Linked DNA regions of Homo sapiens. The protein of the gene in region 2 purifies or fractionates together with the protein of the main gene of each other region. This does not show direct contact. Each region holds a gene or a part of one and is shown on either strand. Other genes may lie near its edges.

What was found. Proteins that work in one complex are often made in the same cells at the same time.
Region 1: the proteins of DHRS4 (region 2) and NDUFS2 purify together in Homo sapiens (affinity purification with mass spectrometry; 2 studies listed by BioGRID and IntAct, with this or other methods). This does not show direct contact.

The regions. Positions count from the first base shown.
Region 1 is NC_000001.11:161,200,518-161,204,264, reverse strand, and holds the start of NDUFS2 (NADH dehydrogenase [ubiquinone] iron-sulfur protein 2, mitochondrial isoform 1 precursor), read right to left. Parts: upstream 1,899-3,747; 5' UTR 1,880-1,898; coding exon 1,785-1,879; intron 829-1,784; coding exon 722-828; intron 1-721. UniProt on the Homo sapiens protein: Core subunit of the mitochondrial membrane respiratory chain NADH dehydrogenase (Complex I) which catalyzes electron transfer from NADH through the respiratory chain, using ubiquinone as an electron acceptor. Essential for the catalytic activity of complex I.
Region 2 is NC_000014.9:23,956,651-23,960,397, reverse strand, and holds part of DHRS4 (dehydrogenase/reductase SDR family member 4), read right to left. Parts: intron 497-3,747; coding exon 395-496; intron 1-394. UniProt on the Homo sapiens protein: NADPH-dependent oxidoreductase which catalyzes the reduction of a variety of compounds bearing carbonyl groups including ketosteroids, alpha-dicarbonyl compounds, aldehydes, aromatic ketones and quinones.

The DNA.
Region 1 (3,747 bases), on a different chromosome or scaffold from region 2:
AAAGTCAAAAGGAAGAGCTAGTTTTGATAGGAAAAAAAATGGTTTGTATTCATGTAGGTTTCATTTGGTTACCAACGGGAAAACCACCACCTTGTCTGGAGAGGGAGATAATGTAGTGAACCTGAAATATATTGAACATGGGAAAAGCTGGCATTAATATTTAAATTGGTAGGGACTTTTGGGTATTTACTGGGACCCATTCTTTATTTTCTTCTGCAACATCCTTCCTTTCCTTCTCTACTTCACAAATACCTGTTGTTATCACTATTATGTCTGTTGAATTTCGTGGTGAAAGAAGCAAACAGGATAGGGGCTAAAATTTGCCTAAGACAGAGAGCTCAAGAGCACTTAGAAATCAGCTGGAGGCCAGGCATGGTGGCTCAAGCCTGTATCTCAGCACTTTCGGAGGCTGAGTTGGGAGGATTACCTGAGGCCAGGAGTTTGAAACCAGCCTGGTCAACATAGCAAGACTCTGTCTCTACAAAAGGAAAATTTTCAAAATTAGCCAGTTGTGGTGGCACAGGCCTGTTGTTGCGGCTTTCTGGGGAGGCTGAGACAGAAGGTTGCCTTGAGCCCAGAAGTTCAAGGCTACAGTGAGCCACTTTCGCACCACTGCACTCCAGCCAGGGAGACAGAGGGAAACCCTGTCTCAAAAAAAGAAAAGGAAATCAGCTGGGGGCAGGGATGGGTGTGGGTTGGGACAGCAACTCTGGTCACTCACCATTCCAAGGTGGAGGCTTCCAGTGGGCTGTTTCTTTGCTTGGGTACATAACAGCTCCCCCAAACTGCTGTGCCCATTCCACATCTGGCTGCCACTGCCGAACACCTCTGGGGAGTCAAAGACAGATCCTAGACAAAGGGCCTGAACAGTGTTTGGTTCCTGTGTTCCCATTCACTCTCAAGGGGACCCAGGAAGGATGACCTGTTTTTTTGTTTTGTTTTGTTTTTTGTTTTTTTTGAGACTGGGTTTCACTCTTGTTGCCCATACTGGAGGGCAATGGTGTGATTTCGACTCACTGAAACCTCCGCCTCCCGGGTTCAAGTGATTCTCCTGCTTCAGCCTCCCAAGTAGCTGAGATTACAGGCATGCGCCACCAAACCCGGCTAATTTTGTATTTTTTTAAAGACGGGGGTTTCTCCATTTTGGTCAGGATGGTCTCGAACTCCCGACCTCAGATGATCTGCCCGCCTAGGCCTCCCAAAGTGCTGGGATTACAGGTGTGAGCCACCGCGCCCAGCCAATGTCCTGGATTTTTTAATGCCAAGTCACTGATCTGAAGTTAATGTAGCTTCGGCAAAACAAGCTGGAACTCTAGAGGTTCCATTCCTACTAACAAATTATTCCTGGAATAACTCCACCCATCACCCCTGGGCATGCAAGGTTGGGATCCTAGCTTCTTCATATTTTCATCATATTGATATTATCAACCAGGTGAATATGAACGTGAGAAAAGTGTTTGTTCAAGGTCAACGACAGAGAGACAGCGAGCATTCTGGCTCTTTGGCTGAGCTCTACTCAGGTATGACAGGAGAGGTGCATTCAAATTACTGAAGCTAAAAAGCAGAGTCTCCCACTCCGCTGATTTCACCTCGGCACGAACGAACTCTAGACCCTCTCCCCTCCCTCGCCAGAGTGGGCGCCACTGCATCCCGTAGCCCAAGAAATCAGGGATGGACAATGGGGTCACAGGCTTGGGTTATTATTTTCTGGGGGAGTAAAGCGTCCCCAACCTGAGAAACCCTAGCCTTGGAGAAAGTGTGTCGAGAGCTGCCCTCGATCTCACCTGCTGGGCTGAATCGGCAATCGGACTCCAGCCCCAGGCCGCAGCACCTGGGCCGCGACGCCCCGGAAGCCGCACAAAGCCCTCAGCGCCGCCATCTTACTCCGGCTGCAGACTGCGGGAAGGAGAACCGGGCGGAAGTAACTCCAGCGCGCCTCCTTCTTGGCTTCTCACCTATTCGCACAGTGAAGCCGCCCTCTTGGAAGCTGGCAGGGTCGTTTACCGTCGAACTGACAACATCCGGGTCCTGTGACTCGGCTTCACTTGCGTTTAGATAACAGTGACCGCGGTCATCTTTACTGAGGGCGTTTCCTCCCACAGCTCCTGGCTGGCTTTTCTAGGAGCGAGCAAGGGAAAATTGCCGTTCCTGCGTGGGGCAGATACTTCGTGCTCTCTCGCCGAGCCCGCCTGCGTATCTTGGAAACGCGCGGCGCTTCCTTCCCTACTCCCTTCCGCCTTGGCCGCCCTCATGCTTTAGTCCTGCTCTCGGATTGTATCTGAGCCCTGCCCTTATAGGGTAGCCCCAGGCTTTGCCAATTACTTTCCCATCACTGAATCCAAAAGACAGGAGTTGGGAAAGCCAGCTAATTTCCAGATGTCATAAATTGAGATTGGAGAAAGGAGCCTAAGTGGGGCTGGGCGGGTCTGAGAGCTCCCGCCAAACCAAAACAAAAAAGAATAGGATGCCAAGGCCGCCGGCATTGGTGGTGCGGAGGGGAGTGTCGGGGTGTGTAGGAGCCACCTCATCCCAGATGGGGGAGTGGAGGTCCTCTGTGGGTGACCCTGACATCCTCCAGGCTTCCCGAACCTACAGAATCACAGACCCAGGAAGCGCCCTTAGAGATGCCTCACACCCCACTTCCGTCTTGCGTCAGCCTCTTTTCCCTAACGTCTTTCTGACCCTGCTATAGCCCTCCTGGGTAATGGCCAACAGCACGGAAATGTAGTAGCACCAGGAGTCTGATCACAATTCTGTATGGACAAAGATTCTTCCAGCCTTAGAGGCTAGTTCCTGTTTTCTCCCTCTGCCTCTAAGCCCAACTCCAGCTGGGCCACCCACCCGTAGAGTTTGTACAACTCTCCAACTCTGAGCCTGGAAAGAGGCCTTCCCCAGATATCCCCTAGACAGGATCCCAGGGACACAGCCCACCAGCAGCGCAGCAGGGTGAGGCAGACAGACCAGGAAGCAGAGATGGTGGAATTCTTCACTGCAGAGAAAGAGGGGAAAGCCAGACTTCTGGCCTGGGAATTGACCTAATGGGAACTGTACCAAAGGGTGGGGCCAGATCCTTAGCTGTGGGAACTGACCAGGACCTGGGCTAGACAAGGCAGCTGCCACAGAGCCAGGGCAGAGGTTTGGTCCCTCTGTTGTCCTCATTCCTTGCTCTTTCCCTGGGCCTTCTTTCTATTGTTGAAACACAGCAAATGTGGCCATGGTGGTGGGGGATGGGAAGGACTGCATTTATTTGCCTTGATCCAGCCTGGGAGAAGTCAGGATAGACTTTGGGCTGCTTGGCCCTGGAGGCAGCTTGAGCTGGGACTGGGGTGGGGGGCTCCTGAGGGGCTGCCTAGGACACTGCAGCTTTTGTGCCTTCTCCCTGCTGCCAACACCCCCACACACACTGCTGCAGCCACTCTAAAGCCCTTTGTCTTTCATTGCTTAGTCACCCCCTTTGTCCTCATCTCAAATAGGGGAGTGGAAAGGGGCAGTAGAGTTCTCTGGTGATAGCTCCTCTTGCCCCTGCCCCTTCTGGTCTCCCACCCTTTGTCCGACTCCTCTAGTCCCAGCCCCGTTGGCTTAGAACCAGGGTCAGGCAAGTGGTGGGTCAAGAGGTGGGTCTGGCAGTCACAAGGGGGTGGGTGATCCAGGAAGTGATAGGCACCAGGGCAGGTATTACCGACCTGAGCAGGAAGGGAGGGGGAAAGGAAGTATTCTGACGGATATGATATGCGGGGGACAGGAGGT
Region 2 (3,747 bases):
AAAAATAATTACTTTTTGTCAGCTGAAAAGGGGACAGGTGGGTGTGTAAATTAAGTGTTGTAGTTGTTGGCATATTAGCTGCCTACGTCTCTGTTGGAAATCAACAAGGCAGAAGAGCATGCCAGGGAAAAAGCCTGGGGAGAGGAGCAGACTGTGGCTAGTGAAGAGCAGATAGAAGCAGAGAGAACTAGGAGTAGCAGAAACGAATGAGAAGGGCAGGGATAGAGCCACCCCCACCCGCCCTTTGCAAGGTGTGCTCCAGGTGTGTGGCACGTGGCAAAGAGTCCTCACATTTACACTGCCCTTGAGAAATGCATTCTAAAAGCAGATGGAGTTTGTGCTGAATGTGTTCCAAGGCGCCCCCCCCGGCCCCCCTGCTTTAATCCCCTCTCACCTTGTCCCACACCTCCTCAGTGACATCCATTATGCTTCCAAAGAAAGGGTTGACAGCAGCATTGGAGACTAGGATATCGATACCTCCATGAAGCTTCACAGCCTAGAGAGAGGGGTAAGTTCTGGACCAGGGCTGCAGTAAGTAAGGGAGGTGCATTTACCCATGTTGATAAAAACTTCCTTCTGGGCAAGGAGCTGTGGCTCATGCCTGTAATCATGGCACTTTGGGAGGCCAAGGTGGGAGGCTCACTTGAGCTGAGGAGTTTGAGAGAAGCCTGGGCCATGCAGCGAGACCTTATCTTTATATTAAAAACAACAACAACAATGACAACAAAATCTTCCTACTTAGGAACTATCGTCAAAATAACTTCTATTTCTTAAAACATCTTTTTTGAAAACTACCCTAAGATCTGCCGCTAACCATTTAAGGTTGGCTTCTTTCTTTTTTAGACGGAGTCTTGCTCTGTCATCCAGACTGGAGCACAGTGGCATGTTCTCAGCTCACTGCAGCCTTGACCTACTGGGTTCAAGCCATCCTCTTGGCTCAGCCCCCCAAGTAGTTGGGACTACAAGTGCGTGCCACCACACCCGGGCAATTTTTGTATTTTTTATAGAGACAGGGTCTTGCCATGTTGCCCAGGCTGGTCTGGAACTCCTGGGCTCAAGCCATCCACCTGCCTCAGTATCCTAAAGTGTTACAGGCGCGACCCACCAGGAAGTTGGCCCTATTTCTTTTGCAGTGTTTTCTTCCCACCTCCTATTCTTCCAAGGCTGTCTCTGACGCTCTTTTCTTTACACTTCCCCTTTGGGAAGCTCCTTCATTCTCATGATTTCAAGTCTCACCCCAAAATCTATTTCCAGACCCCTCCTCTTCCTTTCACACTGAGTTCCACCCACATTTCTCCAAGTGCTTACTGTCCAGTTCTCCTTGAATAAGTTACCATTATCTCAAAGTCAATCTGTCCACACTTACCTGAATGGAAAAACTGGCTTAAATAGAGCTGTAGAAAGTTACCCTGGAGGGGCCTTTGAGATCATCTATTCCAGTGTCCTTAAGGTGGAGATGATGAAATAGGTTCAGAGAATTTTCTCAAGATCTTATAGTTCAGTAGTGGCACACTGGGGCTAGGTAAGAACAGGAGGCCTGCTTATTCTGTGTTTGGGAGGGGTGAAGTGATGTTTTCAGGGCACAAAGCTAGTTAGTGGTGGAAGAACTGAGGTCAGTCTCCCACTTTGTAGCACAGAGCTAATTCATAAGAGCCCTCTGAAAGTGAGTTGGGGTCATCAGGAAACTGGTTGCCCAGGAGAGCCGTGATGGGAGAAGATACCAGCCTGAATTTAAAGCAATTCCATATTTGGTTATGATGTCATTTTCCCTGTCTCTGTCTCTCTCTTTTGACCTGGAGGCATGAAAGATTCAAGGCAGAAACTGAAATTTAAATTGAGAAGGCGAAGAAAGGCAACATCTCACCTCCTTAATAAGTTATAAGTAGATAGTGAGGCCTGTGCTAGAGTAATGAATGGCCAAGCAGAATCTGCCAACAAGGGTTTTCAGTACAAAGCCACCCTGAAACCAGACTTTCCGTTTGCCCGGAACTGGCAATTTTGATGCCTTGGGCAAGTTGCAGTACACGGGCCCTCGGTCAACTTTGTGCTCCGGATTTGGCACACAGAGGGGTGTTACTAACAATGTACACCATCTGCTAGCTTCCCGTTTTAACTAATTATTCTTGTTAACTAGGTGCTAAGCTCAGTTGTTTCTAGACAGTTGAAGGAATGCTGGGCTGTCAATGTGTAAATCTAACAAAATTTACAGTCACATAATCTTTTAAAACCAGTATTAATACTTTCTTGCACCCTTTAAATTTTGGTATCCTGGCACAAAGCCAAGTCACCTGCCTTGGCTCTGTGTAAGTCTCACCAATGGACTTGTTACTAGGGAGGTGCAGAGTAAGTTAATAAGTGATGTGCGCCGTGCTCAGTACACATGTGTTTGGGCTGGGAGGAGACAATGGATTGCTCTAGAATCACCTGGAGACATTTTCTACTCTGCTGTATACCCCATACTCCTCTCCTTCCAGGTCTGTCAGCACAGAGATGGGAGGAGGCTGGGTTTTGATTGAACAGAGACAGCAAACCATAAAAGATGAATGAGGCTGGGTGTGGTGGCTCACACCTATAATCCTAGCACTTTGGTAGGCCCAGTGGGGAGGACCACTTGAGGCCAGGAGTTCAAAACAGCCTGGGAAATACAGCCCCAACTCTACAAAAAATTTAAAAAATGAACTGGTGTGGTGGTGCATGCCTATAGTTTTAGCCACTTGGGAGGCTGAGGTGGGAGGATTGCTTGAGTTCAGGACTTCGAGGTTACAGTGAGCTATGATCATGTCACTGCACTGCAGCCTGGGCAACAGAAGGAGGCCCTGTCTCTGGAAAAAAAAAAAAAAGGAAAGTCTTCTAAGTCTTATTCTAAATTGTGTGATCACTACACCAAAGCGGTTAGGAGCTGTTTGTTCTGTGTTCTGATAGTTATACATTTTTAAGAAAAAATATAATCAAGGAGATAGGCAGCTACTCTGGTTTCCACTTACAACACCAGTGAGAAGCTTCGTGGTGTCCAGATGAGGAGGCCACTGGGTAGTATCCATTCTCAGGAAAGTGGCTTTTCTCATTGCAGGGTAACATGTGGCAACTGGCAGAAGACATTTCAAATTGCTGACAAGTATTCTATCATTCTCCTCTCTGACAATGGTCATACAAACTACTTGAGAGTCATTTTTGACTTCTCTATTTCCCACTTTTTGACATGGGGTTGGAAAATCTTGGTTCGTTTCCACTGAATGTCTCTTGGGCACATCTATTCCAGTCCCACCGCCACTGCTCTAAACCTGGAGGACAGCAACAGCTTCCTCACTGATGCCCTGGATTCGGTGTCTCCTCTGTATATCCTTCCTACCAGAGCCAGATTAGCTTTCCTAATAACCATCTTTCTCTTGCTCAAAACCTCACATGGCTTCTTATTTGCTACAAGGGTGTGTAAACATATCCTTTTAAGAGGCCATATCCTTTTAAGGTCCTTAACGTATCCTTTTAAGAAGCTATGGCCGGGCACAGTGGCTCACGCCTGTAATCCCAGCACATTGGGAGGCCGAGGGGGTGGATCACCTGAGGTCAGGAGTTCAAGACCAGCCTGGCCAACATGGTGAAACCCTGTCTCTACCAAAAATACAAAAATTAGCTGGACGTGGTGGTGGATGCCTGTAATCCTAGCTGCTCGGGAGGCTGAGGCATGAGAATTGCTTGAACCTGGAGGCGGAGGTTGCAGTGAGCTGAGATTGTGCCATATCACTTCAG